Linked DNA regions of Homo sapiens: region 1 is linked to region 2. Evidence: fine-mapped expression QTL. A gene starts in region 2. The other region holds a variant in brackets. All regions are shown on one strand. Distances are from middle to middle.

The links. PIP is the estimated chance that this variant, and not a neighbour inherited with it, causes the effect.
Region 1: its variant is fine-mapped to the expression of KLF6 in whole blood (TOPMed, PIP above 0.99).

What each region holds. Positions count from the first base shown.
Region 1 is chr10:3,664,703-3,673,740 of GRCh38, forward strand. All of the region lies in intron 1 of LOC105376360 (a long non-coding RNA gene), which reads left to right. Among named protein-coding and RNA genes, the nearest start is that of KLF6, 120 kb to the right of the region's middle. RefSeq lists an enhancer at 3,641-4,142. The variant A/G (reference allele first, on the strand shown) is at 4,450.
Region 2 is chr10:3,781,121-3,790,158 of GRCh38, forward strand. It overlaps KLF6 (KLF transcription factor 6), which reads right to left and starts at 4,089. Exons shown (of 4, transcript NM_001300.6): 1 at 3,793-4,089; 2 at 521-1,094. The coding sequence starts at 3,894. RefSeq lists enhancers at 294-1,129, 1,987-2,056, 2,217-2,286, 2,355-2,910, 2,911-3,467 and 1 more, silencers at 3,629-4,228, 4,479-4,758, 4,939-4,998 and a promoter at 3,890-4,827.

The DNA of each region.
Region 1 (9,038 bases), 120 kb before region 2:
CACTAATGACCTCCAGCTCTGCCCTGAGGCTGTTCAGAGATCTCCTGATGGATGCTGCCGGGGCCTTTATTGAAGCACAACGAGCTTTGCATGTAGTGGCGTCTGGAGGGTGTTTCAGGATCGCTCCTTTGAGCACACGGGGTGCAGCGAGGAGACTGCGGCTTCTGCTCCTGGGATGTGGGCTCCTAGGGCTTTCCACTGGCATCAGGTGGCCACACACCGATGGTAGCACTGACCAGCATAGTCTCAGCATGAGGCAGCTGGTCCGAGGTGCAGCTTAAACCTTTCTCAAGGGAGGTGCCAAGGTGCCACCACTGCTGGAGCCCAGGAAGAAGTGTGTGAATACTTTTCAGCCATGAAATGAAGGAAATCCTGTCGATTGTGATGACACGGATGGACCCCGAGGCGACTACGGAGCAGTGAGCATCCCCAGATACCGCCCAGCCTGGGAGGAAAAGGCTCTGTGGTCTATTTGCCTTATGTCATAAATAATGCTTATGACATAAACCTCCATGCCAGGCACGGTTTTCTGAAACTGGCCTCAGTCATCCCTGTCCCACATTCTCTTCTGGAAACGCCCCCTCCCCCATCAAGACGCAGCCTTGGACCACTCACCCCTTGCATTTGGGAGGGCTCATGGCTCACAGTCATGGTGGCACGAGAGGCTGAGCTACCCCAGGCAGGTGAGAGATGCTGCAGTGTCTGCCTTGTTGACAGCACGTGAGCTGTGGGCCCTGACGCCCCACGCAGACATCACTTGGCCTCTTGAACCGAGCCAGTGGGAGCCAAGGCCATGGAGAGGGCGCTCCCAGTGTCCCCCAGTGAGAGTCGGCCAGGCTGCCACGGCAACACATCACAGGCCGGGAGGCTTCAAAGATAGGAACCTGTATTCTCATAATTCTGGAGTCTGGGAGTCCAAGATAAAGGTGTCCTCAGAGTTGCTTCCTCCGGAAGCCTCTCTCTGCAGCTTCAGACGGCCGCCTTCTTGCCATGGCCTCACAGGGTCACCCCTCTGCCTGTGTCTGTGCCCTAATCTCTCCTTCCAAAGACACCAGCCAGATGGGACTAGAGTCCACCCTAGTGACCTCACCTCACCTTAATCACCTCTTTAAAGCCCCCCGTCTCCAAACAGTCCCATTCTCAGGCACTGGGGGACAGGACGTCTGCACATGGATTTGGATTTTGGGGGACATGATGCAGCCGAGCTGAGGTCCCAGACAATAGCAGCATCCTGCAGCCATGAGTGAGGTGGGCAGTTTCCTGCGGAAGACTCCAGCCCTGGCCCTGGGGCCACCAGACCCTGAGGACCAGAGAGAAGTGGTCGCTCTGTGCGTGCGGGAGCTCCTGGCTACAGAACCCGTGAGCAGAATACGGTGCATGTTTGTGACCTGTAGTTCTGGGCCCCTGGATGCTGATTATTCAGCCATGGTCACTGAAATACCCTCAGCCTGGGAGTTCTCATATTATCTCAACTAACCTTTGCGCACATCAAGGTGCCTGTCTCACGGATGAGGACACTGAGACACACAGGATTAAATAAACTGCCCAAAACACACAGTTGCTAAGTGGTGACCCGGACTTGAACCCAGTCTGGCTGACTCCCGAGCCGTTCCCCCCGTGGAGGAGGTCTCGGACAATGCCTGACTCCCGAGCCGTTCCCCCCGTGGAGGTGGTCTCGGACAATGCACAGAGACTCGGTGTGGAAGACCCGCGCCATTCCCACAGGCGTGTCCTGCTCTTTTCGGGACTGGCTGCAGAAGAGTCCCTGCCTGCAGCTCACCCAGCTCAGAGGATGCTGGTGAGGCCACGCCTCTGGCTGTTCCAGGCAGACCCAGCACCCATGTCAGGAGCAGCCAGTGTCTCCCCAGGACGGCAGATGGAGGCAAACCCTGGTGTCTGAGTGGCTTCAAATAGCTGTACACCTGGAAGCCTCAAAGTGCAGGGAACACGGCAGATGGGGGCAGGTGGATGCCCAGGAAGCTTCACCACAGTCACCTGGCTTATTTGCCCCGGCCGGGCCATTCACAAGGCTTGCTGCTGAAAAGGAGTAGGTAGGCTCTGCCCACCCAGCTTTGCACTGCAGGGCTGGCTCCAACCCACACAGGTAGGCAGCCTGGCAGAGGGGAAAAGCCAGCTCAGTCACTCTTAACCGCACTTGCCTGCTGGCTGCTGCTTCTTTTTCTTTTTCTTTTTCTTTTTTAAGAGAAATTGATTAAGCATTTTTCCTTTTTTCCCTGTTTCTGAAATATATTTGGAGGATACACTATTTCTATTCTGATACTCTCTCCTTAGAGGAAAAAAAAAGTTATTTTTCACCTATTGATGCAGCAAAACGGAACCAGAAGCAGGAGTTCCAAGCCAGCCGTGCCTTTCTCTCCACTTCCTTCCCTGGGTGCAACCACAGCGGCGTGGTAGTGACTGTGGATAGTAAGTTCCTGCATTGTGGCTCTTCTGCCCCGCGTCGAGGGCTGAGCTCCCTGCTCTGCCGATGTGCTTTGCCTCCTGGAAGCTTCAGACATGGAAGCCATGTTCTGCCAGACCAGGAGAAACCCCACTTTCATCCCACGTCTCTGGTTATCAGAGCATCAAATCCAAGTTTGACCTACATTACAGGGCAAGTCGGTCATGAGCACACACTGGACCATGACAAATTGATTGTCGTGACTTTATTGATGTCAAGGGGGATACAGTGCCACGATTAATAATTTACCCAACAGAGAAAAGCTTTTCTTGTCTCTGTGATGCCGGAGAGCCCAAGGTTTGATTGTTCCAAGTCCGAGCACTAAGGAGGGAGGTGCTCACACTTACAGCTCAGGTGAAAATCCACAGCAGAAGATTCCTGGTAGCCTCCTCTCTGCGTGCCCACAAGTCGTCGAGGCAGAAAGTGAAGTTTGTTCTCTTATAACAAACCATTTGGACAGACACTTGGTTTTTCTGTTCTCAGAATTTTTTCTGCTCTACCCAAACTAGGGGTTGGCGTTGCATAGGTACCATGGGCACTTGGGGAATGCCTGTTTCGTTTCATTACATTGAGCGGTGATAAGAAGATTCAGACACTAATTGGCATTTTCCCCTAAATCTCCATGGAAATGCAGTCTCTATTCCAGGGCACCATGTACTGCGAGGACTTTATACTCGCCCTCCGAGTGAAAGGAGAATGAAGGAATGAATACAGAGGTGGACAGGGTCATTTCTGTCCCATAACTGCATATTGTGGACATTTTTCTTTTCTGAGATGGAGTCTCGCTCTGTCACCCAGGCTGGAGTGTGGTGGCATCATCTCAGCTCACTGGAACCTTTGCTTCCCGGGTTCAAGTGATTCTCCTGCCATGACAGGCACCCACCACCATGCCCGGCTAATTTTTGTATTTTTAGTAGAGACGAGGTTTCACCGTGTTGGCCAGACTGGTCTTGATCTCCTGACCTCGTGATCCACCCACCTTGGCCTCCCAAAGTGCTGGGATTACGGGCGTGAGCCACCGTGCCCAGCCTTTTGTGGACATTTTAAACAGCAGGGAAATTAATCCTGAGCAATAAAAAATAAATAAATAAATAAATAAATCATGGTTTTTATTTGAATCTTAAAAAAACAAAACGAAACATGTTTTCACTTTTTTTTTTCCTTATCTAATTTGGCTACTGCTTCACTTTCTCTGCCACCTCTCTTACTGCAGTTTCAACTAAATGACTAAGCAAATTAGATCTTGAGTTGCTTTTCTGGAATGCGGAGAGTTGGAGAATCAGATAAAAGTCGAGGTATCTCTCTCTTCAGCAGCTTCCAGATCGGGGGCTGGAGCTGAGCGGGGGTGTTGTGCAATCCCGTACTGTTGTCGAGCAGGCTTCAGTTCAGGGAGACCAGGCAGGCTGAGGCCCAGGAGAGTGCCCCCTTGCATCTGCCCTGGGGGAAACTCTAGAAGGGGTAGAGAAAATCCGAGAAGAAAGGATATTTTTACACGGTAGGATTGTATTTTTATCCCCGGAGGCTTGCTGAACGCAAGTTTCTGGGTAAGTTACACAATACAGGAAAAGTAACTGTTTAGCGTATAGGTGATACGTGTTGGAGGCCAGAGCGCTCTGCAAAGCCCCGCCCCTGTGTGTGTTGTGTGGTCTGAAAACAAAGAGCAGGCATCACCTTCTGGAGGTGAGGCTGGCCCGGGACTCAGATGGCTCTAACTCTGCGGGTCGCCTGCCCAGAGGCTGCACTTCAGCCGGCGGGGAAGCCAGGATGGATCTTAAGTCATTCGATTCTCAGGCCATAGGTTGTTGCCAAACTGCAGCCTGGAAAAATAGTCTATTGATTTTCTGAGTCAAATAAAGTTATGTTAATGTAGAATTAAATAGATAGTCACATAGCTGTAACATCCCCAAAGATGGAAATACTACACATCAAATGTGCCTGTGGTCTCTTTGTTCATCTGTTCCTTCCTGTTCTTACTGCTATCAGAAAAA[A/G]ACATACCTAGCATTGCTAAATAAGGCTTGAGAAACAAGCGTGTTTTGTAAATAGCACATCTTCGTACAAACTCATATAATATTTTCAAACCCTGAAGTCGCTTGCATTTTTCTTCGCTATTCACAGCAACTCTGCAAGATGCTCCTCACATTGGGTTTAAATTGTGACATCATATCCAAATTATGTCCCCTTGGGCAACTCAACTAAACTCTTTTCCCCGTTTCTTCATCTCTAAATTGGAATGATAATACAAGCTTCCTCAAATAAATCAAAGTGAGAATCAAACCAGCCTGGCCAACACGGTGAAATCCCGTCTCTACTAAAAATACAACACTAGCCGCGTGTGGTGGCGGGCACCTGTAATCCCAGCTACTCGGGAGGCTGAGGCAGGAGAATCACTTGAACCCAGGAGGCAGAGGTTGCAGTGAGCTGAGATCGCATCATTGCACTCCAGCCTGGGTAACCAGAGCGAAATTCTGTCTCAACAAAAATAAATACATGAAAAGTCAGGTTAGGTATGTGGGTGCTAAGAACCACATGCACATGGAACTGCTTGCCGCTGTCTCCGTTATTTACTAGAGGAAGACACTGATATGGCGCCCAAGCCTATCGCTGGTCTGACCTTTTCACACCATCACAGAGGGGATATGAGGTTGGACGTGTTCTCCCTGCCAGCCTTGCCTTCTTGCCGTCACAATCATCCCTCTAGATATGCCTGCAACAAGGACCCAGAGTCCTAGGTCTTGGCGCCTTTGCTGCCGCCTCCCTGGGAGGGGTCACCCGGCACACCGTGACCTCCTCACCTCACCCCTCTGTAGCCTTCAACCCCAACCCCCCTTCTTCGCATGACAGTCAGAGTGAAGAGAGAAAGTATGATTCAGATGTGTCTCTGCTATTCCACGCTCCCAAAGGCCTCCTCATGTCTCTGGGGGCAAAAGCCAAAGTCCTCCCACTGGCCTTCAGATGCCCCACAAACCCACCACTCCGTCCCTCTGACAACATCTCCTCCTGCTCTTCTGGATCCAGCCACCTCCTTGTGTGTCTTCAAGCTCTGCAGCCTTCACAGGGGCCCCTCCTGCCTGGAGCACTCTTGCTGTGTATCTGCGTAACTTGCCTCTCCACCTCCTCACCTCCTGTCTCCCGCTCTCCGTCCTTCTTCCTGCTGTTCCTTTCCTCCGCAGCACCATTCACCTTCTAACAGGCTGCTCCTCATGACTTCTGTATTTGGTCAGTTTCCCCAAACAAGAACGCAAACTCCACCAGGCAGAGGCTTGCACTTGTTTCGTTCTCGGTGGATCCCCCATGCCCCTGGAACAACACGTAGTGGGCATATGATCAGTATTTGTCGAATGTGTAAATAAAGAAAGGAAGTAAGGAACAAATGAATGGACACATGAAATGTGTTGCAGGCAGAAAAAAGTTAGAAAAGACAACACGACATTGCGCAGGAGTTGAGAGGAAGAAAGGAGATCTGGATTGTGATGTTTTCCCCTCCCTTACCAAAAGGCAGTTTTACCAACAAACTGAGTCAGAATAATCATTGCAGCAGAATTTGCCAGAGGTCAGGGACCTGCCGGCCAGTCTCAGTAAGATGAAACGTAGAAAATTCACTCACTATCCCCAGAGAGCACAAGGCTTAGGGTGTCCATCGGGGAGTGGCTGCTCACGGGGTCAATGGGGCCAAGAAGGAGCAGCTTAAGTAAAAATAAAGGGTATTTACTGGGGGATGCAAAGGAGATGGAACTGGGACATGGAAATCTGTCGGGGTTTTGAAGATTATTCTCTCTCTCTACAGCTGGTGTCCCCTTCTCCCTGCTGTCCCAATGCTCCCACCAAATCAGTCAACGTCATACGTAGACTTGCCCATCGTACAGCTCACCCTGTGGCACAGCAGGGCCTGCACGTGCCCTAGTGCAGGACGCCAAGTCACCCAGTGCTGATTCCTGATTTCTAGGACAGAAGATCCACTGGCTCACAATGGCTTAGGTGTCCACCTGGATCATGGCCCTAGCCAGGCAGTTGAGGCCCAGGACAGCCAGGGCACTCCTGAGAGGCTGTCTCTGGAGAACTATCTGGGGGTCTGGGGGACTCAGGGCTGGACGGACTCCCAGAAACATTCTCATCCAGAGCTGGGACAGGAATACCTCCAGCATCCGTAGCTCCCATGGACAATGTGATGCCCTTTTAAAGCAGCAAGTACATGGCACTGGGTGCCATGGGCATGGGAATGATAAGGACCGTGGGGTGGAGCAGAGAAATTGGTTTTACATTGTAGCTGTGGACAACACTGTTATTTTGTATTATTTGTTGTACTTAACATGATTCTGTACAAAGAATGCTCGAAAGGAGAAAAGACAGAGGAAGTTCAGTAAATTAGAGGGAAGTTCCCTGCTGTGCCATGGAGCAATATTTATAATCTGGGCCCTTTAGGGAAGGGATTACTGGCACAGAGATTACAACGGCGCTGTAAGAAGAGATTCCAGACCAGTTTTGTAATTTATTTCACTTTCATGAAACCCCCCACAAATCAGAAAAGCTCTGTAAGTAGAGACTTCTCTGAAGGGAACATCCAAGGGAAGAAGCTCCTCCCCTCTTGAAGAGGTGGTGGAGGGACCTCGGGAGGGTGGAATTCAAAGCAGTTAAGCAATCGTCATTGAACGCGTGGCCCCTGAGCACGCTGGCTGCAGGGCTGGTTCCCTCACCTCGCTGCTCCCTGGCATCCGACCTGTGAGATGGTAACAGTGGCATCTACCAAATAGGACTGTAGTGAGAACCGCTACGAGTCTCTAATGCACAGCAAGGTTTATGTGAATATTAGCCATTTTTACTATTGCTCTGATTCCTGGGGAGTAGCTGAAAGTCAGTGCACTCAAGCCCCTGAAGTGCCGTCTTCTTGTCACCATCATGATTTTCTCTTTTAGCCATACTTGTTCATTATTGGTGCTATACATGAATCAATTTTTTTCTTTAAATAGCATGATTTGTGTGTATGTTGTGTATTTATTGTATCCACTAAAGTGAACACATAAATATTAAAATAAAAATATGCATTTAGATGCCATTGAATTAATCTCTGGGCACACCACTATTTGGGGCACACTGTCCTACAAAATGCGTATGGTTCTGTATCTATAGAACAAATTATCACTGTCCCCAAGGCATAACCACTGCCTGCAGAGGTCCTCACTGATGGTGGAGTTTGCTCTGATGCTCTGGCCTGGTCACTGCAGCTTTCTATGTCTGATTCACGTCTTTCTTTTTGGCACTGTCTCCCACTAGCACTACACCAGATTCCTGTAATTCAGTTAAACTGGTGAGCAGACCATGCAACCAGCTTCTGCGACTCAGGCTGTTTCCCGGAATGCAGCATCCGTCCTGCAGTGTCCTTCTTCACTGTCTTTTTTTATCTTCACAAAACTTCTTGCAAACAAAATCCTATTTTTTTTTAATTTTTATTTGAGACAGAGTCTTGCTCTGTCACCCAGGCTGGAGTGCAGTGCTGCGATCCCAGCTTATCACAAGCTCCATCTCCCGGGTTCAAGCAATTCTCCTGCCTCAGCCTCCTGAGTAGCTAAGATTACAGGCACCTGCCACCACATCTGGCTAATTTTTGTATTTTTAGTAGAGATGAGGTTTCACTATGTTGCCCAGGCTGGTCTCAAACTCTTAGCCTCAAGTGATCCACCCATCTCGGCCTCCCAAAGTGCTGGAATTACAGGCGTGAGCCACCATGCCCAGCCTGAATCCTATTTATTTAATTGATTTACAAACAATTTTCAGAAATGAAAATTTCAAATTGACTTTTAACTGGTAATTTCTTTTAAAATCTGAATCTAGGCCAGGCACAGTGGCTCACGCCTGTAATCCCAGCACTTTGGGAGGCTGAGGTAGGTGGATCATGAGGTCAGGAGGTCGAGACCATCCTGGCTAACATGGTGAAACCCCGTCTCTACTTTAAATACAAAAAAATTAGCTGGGCTTGACGGCAGGCGCCTGTAGTCCCAGCTACTTGGGAGGCTGAGGCAGGAGAATGGCCTGAACCCAGGAGGCGGAGTTTGCAGTGAGCCGAGATCGCACCACTGCACGCCAGCCTGGGTGACAGAGTGAGACTCCATCTCAAAAAAATAAAATAAAATCTGAATCTGTAAGTTTCTTCACCCTTTCCTTTTGTCAAGAAGTTAGTGATCTGTTGCAAACTACAATAACATAACTACTTAATATACCTAGAAGAAATACAAAGAAATATGTAGGCATTATGCCAATAGATTCAACAATTTTAGATAAAATTGAGAAATTACTTGAAAGACACGTTATCAAAAACTGACACAAGAAGTAATAGAAACTATGACTAGCTCTAGATTTATTTTTTAAATTGGCTTCTTAATTTAAAATTTTTGATGAAGAAGAGTCCAGACCTAGATTGATTTATCAGTGGGTTCTGTAAAAACTTTGAGAAGAAACAATACCAGTTTTATGTAAGCTCTTTCAAAAAGTTGTGGAAAATCTTGTAAAGGGGATTACTTTTGAACCTATTTTATTAATTAATTATCTTTATAAAAAGATTAGATAAAGAAGATAGAAATGCCAT
Region 2 (9,038 bases):
CATGAGACACGGAGAAGTTCTCAGGAAACACTCGCTGATCAATGCTGCTGCTTACAGAGCAGGCCGGTCCCACTCGGGCCTCGGGCCGTCAGCATCAAACCCACACACTCCACGCTGCCCAGCAACCCTCTGTCCTGACCCTTGAGTTTCATTTAGGAAACCCCAGGGCCGCTCGAGGTAGCCTCGTGCGAGTGCACTGGTGAAGGGGCAGTGGCCTCGGATCCCCAGCACTACTAAGGGGTGGGGGGTGGAGGTTTGGGTGTCCGTGGAGAAAAGGATCTAGTCTCTTGTTTGTTTAATCTGAAAATTGTTACACATTTATCCAACTCAAAAGTCCAGTCTTTAGGATTCTACTCTGAACTCCAAAAAGACCTAATGCTTTGGTGGAAAACATCTGAGGAAGTGAGGATTTGTCTGCCCTGACCACATCCTGTGCAGCCAGGCCCGGCTCCCTCCAGGGCTGGTGCAATGCAGTGGCGCCCACCAGCGGCCGCCCTCCGGGGCCCGCGTGGGCACTGACCTGTGTGCGTCCGCTGGTGTGCTTTCAAGTGGGAGCTTTTGGTGTAAACTTTCCTGCAGCCGTTAAAGTGGCACCGGTGCACCCTCCTCCTGCCGTCGGGGGAGGCATCGCCATTTCCCTTGTCACCTGGCTTCCCCGAAGTCCCGCTGCGCACCTTCCCTGGCGAGGGCAGCTCCCCGGGCACGCAACCCCACAGTTGAGAAGGTTCCCTGCTCAGTTCCGGAGAAGATGGAGGCGTGGAGGTGACAGAGGAGCTCAATTTTCCCGAGCTGACCAAAACTTCGCCAATGGGGTCGGAGGTAAACTTGGCCGTGGGAGAAAGTTCCTCGGAGCTGTCAGAGGATTCGCTGCTGACATCTGAGTTCAGGCTGTTGGTCTCTAAGTTGTAACAAAAGCTCGGGCTGATGAGAGTGTCCTCTGGAGGACTGGAAGATATCTTCAGTTCGGATTCCTCCTTTTTCTCCCGAGCCAGAATGATTTTGGTCCACAGATCTTCCTGGCTGTCAAATTTGATTTCTGAGGCTGAAACATAGCAGGGCTCGCTCTGGAGGTAACGTTCCAGCTCTAGGCAGGTCTGTGCAAAATGAACCAGAGAAGGCACGTGATTGCCATGACGACCAAAAGTAAAAGCAAAAGCAATTTCCAAAAACATGCAAGAATGAAGGACAGATAACATTGCTGCCCGGTCACTACAGGGGCAAAACCTTTTGTAATTAAGCATCCGTGTCCTTACGGAAGTTAGAGGAAATCTGTTTCTAGAATGGTAAGAATTCAGAGGAAAAGTCGGAGGGTGAAACCTCTCCTGGCTTTCCCAATGTTGGGCCAAGGGCCACAATGAGTGATGATCACTAAGCCGGTTTTTTTGTTGTAGTTACCAGTGTTGATGTTTCTCATGAAACCAGAGGAAGAGAACCGGCCCCATACACATACTCCTCCCCAACAGGTTCAACCAGATTATCTGACATTGTCAAGAACCATGTGTTTTAAGGAAAGCCCCAGCCATCCACCCTTCACACTCCACAGATACCCACACAGGACAGAAAGACTGCACGGCACACAGCGTGTTCTGAGGGACCCCCTTGGGGACACGGCTGACAACACAGGGCCACACTCGGGGGAGAGGAGACAGCAGCTGTCTGTATTCAGGGGCATCGAATGGAGCTGCAGAAAAACCACCCATTTCCTGTGTAGCCCAGACCGCCTATGTTTTCACAGAATGCCGTTCCCAAGTGCAGGCCCTTGCATGACACAGAACTTTAATTACTTCTACAGTGGTCAGAGAAAAACAAGGAACTTCAACAACAGGAGTGCAGAAATAATTCCAGCATGGCCATCTGCTATTGTGAAGGGTGCAAGGGGAAATTACTCCACGGCCCTGCTGGGAGTCCCACAATGAACAAGAACTTTATCTACTGGCCAAGAGTACAACTGCATGAGTCATCACTCTGATTTCTTTCACGCAATGCCAAAGGAGACTTCCTTTTGAAATTCTCATCAGCAGCCAAATAAGGACCCAGCTCAAATGGACATGCAGTGTGGCATGGACAGTACCCCTTCCCCAGCCCCGCAACCAACCTTTCAAGAAGCTACAACTGCCGAGATCAGCATCCCCTCTCCCCACCATTTCAAACTTTCTAGCCACTGGAAAAGAAAAATGGTAGGAAACATTTTAGGATTAAATTATGTCTGCCCTGATTTTCACGAGGATCAGCTGCCTGCATGTCCATATAAGGTTGTCTATACTACTGGCAATTCTACAGATTTCAGTTTCTACACCAAACGGCTCTGGTGAGCACGTCATTTTTCCGGGCAGGGACCTTCCTGAGCGCAGCCTACCCCAGGGGCTCAGGCTGACTTAGCAGTGTGCCTCTCTCCTGCCACAGGCAATCCCTCCCCCTCCCCAGGCTCGCACACAGCCGGTGGGAGCAAGCACACGGGAGAATCATGCTTTCCCCTTTCCCCCGAAACCAGGCGTCTGAGTTACAATGCACACTACAGCGTTCTGAAGAGAGGCAGCAGCGATGTATTTTATTGATTTAACAAAGAAAAAAGAAAAGCACATTTATGGAGATCTTGTTAAACTTTAATAATCCGGCCAATTTAAAATCTCCATTACGCTGATGAGCACCCGGGACCTGAACGAAGCTCTCGGAGAGTTTAAAAGCCTCCAAAGGCGACCAAGAGCCAGGTCTGGCCGTTTGCCCAAATCCCAAACGCCCGAAGGAAACTACTTAGATCAATTTCAATCACGTCCTAGGGAGCAGCTTCTTTGAGGAGGAAAAAAACAGGAGGGGGAGGGGGAAAAGGCAGGAGAGGACTGTGAACAATTAAGCAGGCGTGTGAAGGTTGCAACACCCTGCATTTCATCTTCCTTAAAGCTTTCGAGGCTTGGAAACCCACAGCCTCTATTTGATCTGGCAATTCACTTTGTGACGAAAAACAAACAGCACAGCAGGGCAGGGAGACAACAGTAAACCCTCCTGCGATCGCTGGAGAGACAATGGGAGGAGTGTCAGTCTCTCTCCCCTCGGGCGATGCTACCTATAAGCACGGGGACCTGGTAAGTTTCTTAAATTTCCAATGCCCCCAAATTCCAGTTCTACGACAATGTCGGAAACCGAGGTCCTTCTTTCCAAACTAAGACTTGAAGCAGTTTGGACGGGCTCATTGTCACAAGACTGACAAGTCACTGGGGTGTACACAGTTTTATTTTTATTTTTCTTGGTCAACAAGAGAAGCAGGGAAGACAAATAAGGCAGATCTAGGGGAAATGTTAGGCATTCCAAAGAGCAGAAAACACATTGGAAATGGTCTACAGTTTAAAAAAGACAAAAATAAAAGAGAGCTGGTCTACGTTCTGGGGGCAAAATGTGATTTTTTTAAAAAACTGTTAAGTACAAGCACCAAGAAACAAAACAAAAACAAAATCCGTTAAAAAAAAACAACAAAAAACAAACAAACAAAAAAAAAACACCTTGGCAGGCAGAGCAAGTTGGTCCCCATGACAAGCTCCAGCTGTGGCGTCTGGAGCGGGGACAGGCTCCGAACTCGTGCCAGGGGCTCGGCCGGGCTGTGCCGGGAGTTGGGGCTTCCCTGGGCGGACGCTGATCGCAGCCTGGAGGATCGATCGGCGGGGGCGCTGCGCCCGCTCCCCCGGTGACAGCGCGGGGCCCAGGCCCAGCGGACCGCAGAGAGCACCGGGTCTGAACCCCAAACAGCCGACCCGGCCCGCGCCCCGGCGCCCGCAGGGAACCGCGGCCGGCTGCGTTTACCTGTTGCCAGTACTCCTCCAGAGACGGCAGCGCCGAGAAGTAGCCGGTCTCGTGCACGATCTGGAGCTCCTGGAAGATGCTGCACATGGGGAGCACGTCCATGTCGGGCCGGGTTGGACGGAGCCCGCGGTCGCGAGGGCGGCGAGGCGCGCGGTGGGAGCCGGAGCCGAAAGTCTCCCCGGAGCGCAGGTGAAAGTTTCATGCAAACTCCAGGCTCGCAGAGACGCCCGGCCGGACCCTCCCGCAGCCCGCAGCGCGCGGAGCCCACACAATATTTGCAAACACCGGACTGACTGCAAACGTAACCCCTGCAAAACTTCCCTATTCAAAGCTCCGCTGCCAGCCTCCCCCTCCGCCCCCGCCTGGCTCCCCCCACTCCCCCTCCCCCCACGTGACTCGCCCCGCGCCCGCCCCGTGCGCGGCCCAATCCCGTGGCTCCCGGCCCGGGGGCTGCGCGCCGATGATGTCAGCTCCGGCCAATCGCAGGCGGCGACACACAGCGGCCCCGCCTGGCGTGACCGAGACTCTCCATCACGGCCCGCACCATTGGCTCAATTCGAACTCTGCTCGTTCTGATTGGAAAGTGGCCTCGCAGGCTATTTTTAGCAGGGTATATAAGGCGCGGGCGGCCGCGCGCCGGAGGAGTCCGCGCTGTGAGGTGCGCGGCCGAGCCCTGCACTGCGCCCGCGGCCGGAGCTAAGGGAGCCGGGGCTGGGAGAGCCGGGGCGGGCCGCGTCGCCTGTCCCCAGTCCCGGTCTCTCTTCCCCGCTGCCCGGTCCCGCCACCCCACGCCCGTCCCGGTCACCAAGCCGGGCCCTGTCGCCGCGCGAGCCCCGGTTCCGGCAGCTCACCCTGCGGGCGGCCGTCCGGTCCCGGGGCCGCCCGGTTCCCCCCCGTCCCCTTCTATGCCCGAGGCCGCCCCGTCCCCAACTGTCCCCTTCTACGCCGGGGGCTTCCCGGTCGCCAACTGTCCCCTTCTATGCCCGGGGCCGCCCCGTCCCCAACTGTCCTCTTCTGCGCCGCTCTGTTTCCCTACATCCCCCTAGTCATCCTCTGTTCTCTAACCTTGGGGTACCCCTCTCTGTCCTCCTCCACCTCCGGGTCCCTCTCTGTCCCCCTCCATCCCTGAGCCCGTCTCCGTCCCCCTCCAGTCCTAGGGTCCCCTCTGTCCTCCGGGCCACCAGAGTGGGGGAGGGGAGCACGCAGGCTCCCCTTGGAATTGGGAGAAACGTGTTTATCTTGTAGAGGGCGATCTTAGCCCTCACCAAGGTTAACAGCTAGGTTTTCCCATGAACGTGTAAACAATTTAGGTGCAAGCCGACATTTAGTGTGTGTGTTTTTTTCCATATAAATTATCTCCTAAAATATACCGTAATGTTCATTTTTAAGAAAAATGTCGAGACTCGAACCAGAGCATTTTAAAATCCAAAATGGAAAACTGAATTGTAACTGTATTATAGTTTTTGTTTCAAAATAGTTTAATGAACATTAAACATTTTGAAAGAATGGACTATGTAAAAAAAAATTAGAGGGTTTTGTATGTTAAGTTTTAGAGGGTCCGGCAGAAGCATGTGGCTGTAAGACTAGGTGGGGACCTTAGTGAGTCTGGAGTGGAGAAAGGAGGTTTGTCTTGTACCTGCGGTATGTGGGCGGTGAAGGTTATGCAGAGTGAATTGACAGTGTTCTTGGCTCGTGTTCATCACATTTACCCCAGCAACTGAGAGCCAGGACCAGCCCTTCTTGGGGACCTGCACCTTAACTCTGTTTCCAGGAATGCAAATGGCTTTGTTTTGAACCATCCACAGATTTGCCCAAGCGCCCATTGACCGGGGCCCAGTGACTGGCAGCCGAGAGCATCTGGGCAGCCGTTGTGTTGGGGGCAGGGTTCTCTCAGTAATTAGCGCTTGTGACCTTGGCCCCGCTAGTTCCTAAGTAAGCAGGAGTGTGGAGCAAGTCCCCCGCTGAGGGCCAGGCACGCTGGATCAGGGGGAGCCCGAGATGAAGGGGGAAGGCTCTGTCTGGGCCAGGGAGGACAGGACGGCTGTCTTTGCAAGGCGTGTGGGCGTCCTGGTGAGGGTGTCCCATTTTATCTTTGGGACAATTAATTATTGTCTTAATGTTTTTTAATAAATCCACATTCCTATAGAACTTAAATTCATCCTTGTCTCTTAACATGCTTTGCCCGGCACTATGAAGATTATATAGTTTATTTTTACAAGAGGGAACCTGATTAGTCATAATGCAGATACAGTACAATGGCCATTGTCATTTTCAGAAAAAAAAAAGATTTGAAAACAGGGTACATATGAACACTAAATTTCAAATAGAATAGATCCTATGGCATCCTGCTGCGCTCATTGACCATTGAACACACATTACTCACACCCTATGAATGGCCAGGTATTGGTACACAGAAATTTACAAAACAGGCACAAATCCCTATTACGGTGTGGGAGAGGTGGGCTGCCAGGAGTATGTAGATGTTTGAAAACAAAAGTCCTTATTACGAGTAAGCATGTAACCAGTTGGTGAAAAAATATCATTTTCTTTGATGTGACAAAGAATATGCATCGCATCTGAACACTAATAGTTGCGCCTGATTTTTTTAAGAAGAGCAACAAAGAATCGTAGAGGGCCAGATTAATTCAGAAGGGGGAAGTATGGCAGGATATAAAAAGATGATGGATTTTACACTTTAGTTGTCCATGCTGTGCGCATGGCCCTGGTCACGTTATTTAAATAGGAGATTAAAATGACTATTAGAATGAGTTTAGTATAATCAGAAGAGTTAATGGATTAAAATTCCTGCTTGGTAGCAAATAGTAGTGATTCAATAAATTGAAGGCAGTGTTCACTTATTCACCATTTAGCCATTTGTAAGTTTGCTCTTGGTAATTATTTTATAATCCCCCACCCTTCTTTTAACATATGAGTGAATGCAGACAGAAAAATGAAGTCAACTTTGCAGGCCACAAAGCAAATCAGAGACAAGAGTTGGACCTCGACTTGTCCAATAATCCCACAGGTGCTTCCTTCTCCTGCCGGTCGCTGAAGAGCCCTGCTCTGTTTTCACTCTCGCAGTCTTGGAGAGAAAATAATCAGCTCCATTTGTTGGACGTGACCCTTGTTCTCTGCTCACCTTGAGCCACTCCTGTCTCTGCCACTATCTTCAAAAGGTCAAGATCCCTTCTGGGTGACAGTCGTAGGCTCCTTTCGACGTTCCTGGGGGCCACTTCACCCCCCTGGCACCCCGCTGTTACTTCCTCAGTCCCCACTTAGGCCTCCATGCCCTCCTCCACTGTTTTTCTTCTCCTCTTAGACCTCCAGGCTGTGCTCATTTATTTCATACCAGGAAGCTCTCTTTGTTGCCTCTCAAAAATAAAAGTATACATTTGAAACCTAATTTTAAATTTAATTTAAAGATTAATGGGATAACATGTTGGTATTGAGTACATTTGATCTTCCTGTTCTAGATCATTCAAGACGGGCTCTTGGGGGAAGTCTTACAAATCTGTTCTGAGGATAATTCCAATAATGCCCCCTAATTATATTGACAGAGAATGCTCCAATTTTGGGGCAAGAAGCCAATTTTGTTGTTCTGTTTTGTTTTGGTTTTGGTGTCTGTACCAATATATTGCCTGTTTTGGAGCAAACTACCCTTTTATTTCATCTGTTTATTTTGGGTGTGCAAAATATAATTGTTAAGAAAGTACTTCTGAATATTTACATGATAGAGCCTATGTAAGTGTAAAATGTTCCTTTTTTTTTGAGATGGAGTCTCCCTCTGTTGCCCAGGCTAGAGTGTAGTGGCACAATCTTGGCTCACTGCAACGTCTGCCTCCTGGGTTCAAGCAATTCTCCTTCCTCAGCCTCCCAAGTAGCTGGGATTCCAGGAATGCACCACCACGCCTGGCTAATTTTTGTGTTTTTAGTGGAGATGGGGTTTTACCATGTTGGCCATGCTGTTCTTGAACTCCTGACCTCAAGTGATCGGCTGCCTCTGCCTCTCAAATTGCTTGATTACAGGCATGAGCCACTGCGCCTGGCCCTGTGATGTTCATTTCTCAATTATCTCATTTGCAGATAGTTCTATCTAAATAGTGAGTTGCCTTTTCTCTCCCTAGCGTTTTTACATAACATGTAAGGTGTAGTAGATTCACTTTTTAACCATTTTTGCTTAGAATAATGAAGGAAAATGCCCTATTGATAGTTTTCAAAAGATGTTGAATTTTACTGTCAACATAGGCAAGGTAATAAGTACAATGACAGGATACCTCTGGGGCATTGGTCGGGGAGAACTTCTGTCTATCTAAGACCTTTGTTTTAGTAGCCCTCTTTTAAAATATAATTGTAAAATGGGACAGCTGTAAAGCTCAGTTCACAATAGGGCCTCCAGAAGGAGCTCCCTGTGAAATATCCACAGGTACAAGCTATACCACGTGTGTGGTTAAGATACCCATTCTTTACAAGGTGGTCTGTGCATTCCACACACTTCCCATCAAAATCTCAGCAGGCTTTTTTGTTGAAGTTGTCCTGCTGATTTAAAAATGTATAGGAAATGCTGAAGAGAGCTATACCTAAACCAGTCCTGAAGGTTGAAAGTTTTATATTATGTGTTTCAAGACTTAAAGCAAAATTGAACGTGATTGTGTGACATTGGCTTTGATACAGTTAAATCAATATAACAGAATATAGAGCTCAGAAATACCATCATTCTTATACACTTTTAAAAAAAAATTTTCAAAAAGGTACTAAACCTATCCCTGTGTGGTTTACTGAGGTCTTGTATCTGTGGTTTATTGTATTTCATTAAATCTTGGAAAGTTCTTGATCACTGTAACTTCAAATATGTCTTCTGTCCCATTCTCTTTCTGTTCTCTTTCTGGGACTCCAATTGCACACGTGCTAAACAGTTGGATATATTGTTCCACAGATTTCAGATGCTCCATTTCATTTTTTCATTCTTTTTCCTGAATGCGTTTCTTTTTTTATAATTTCTATTGACCTGTCTTCAGATTCACTGATTCTTTCCTGTGCTGAATCCTGTCTGCTGATGAGACCATTGAAGGGATTCCTTAGATGTGATAGTATTTTTTTATCTTGCTTACATTTCCATTTTATTCTTTCTTGTAGTTTCTTTCTGCTGCAGTTCCCCATCTTTTCATTATCTACATTTTCCCCACTAGATTATTTTAATCTTTTAATCACAGCCATTTTAAAGTCCTTCTTTGATAGTTTCAGTGTCT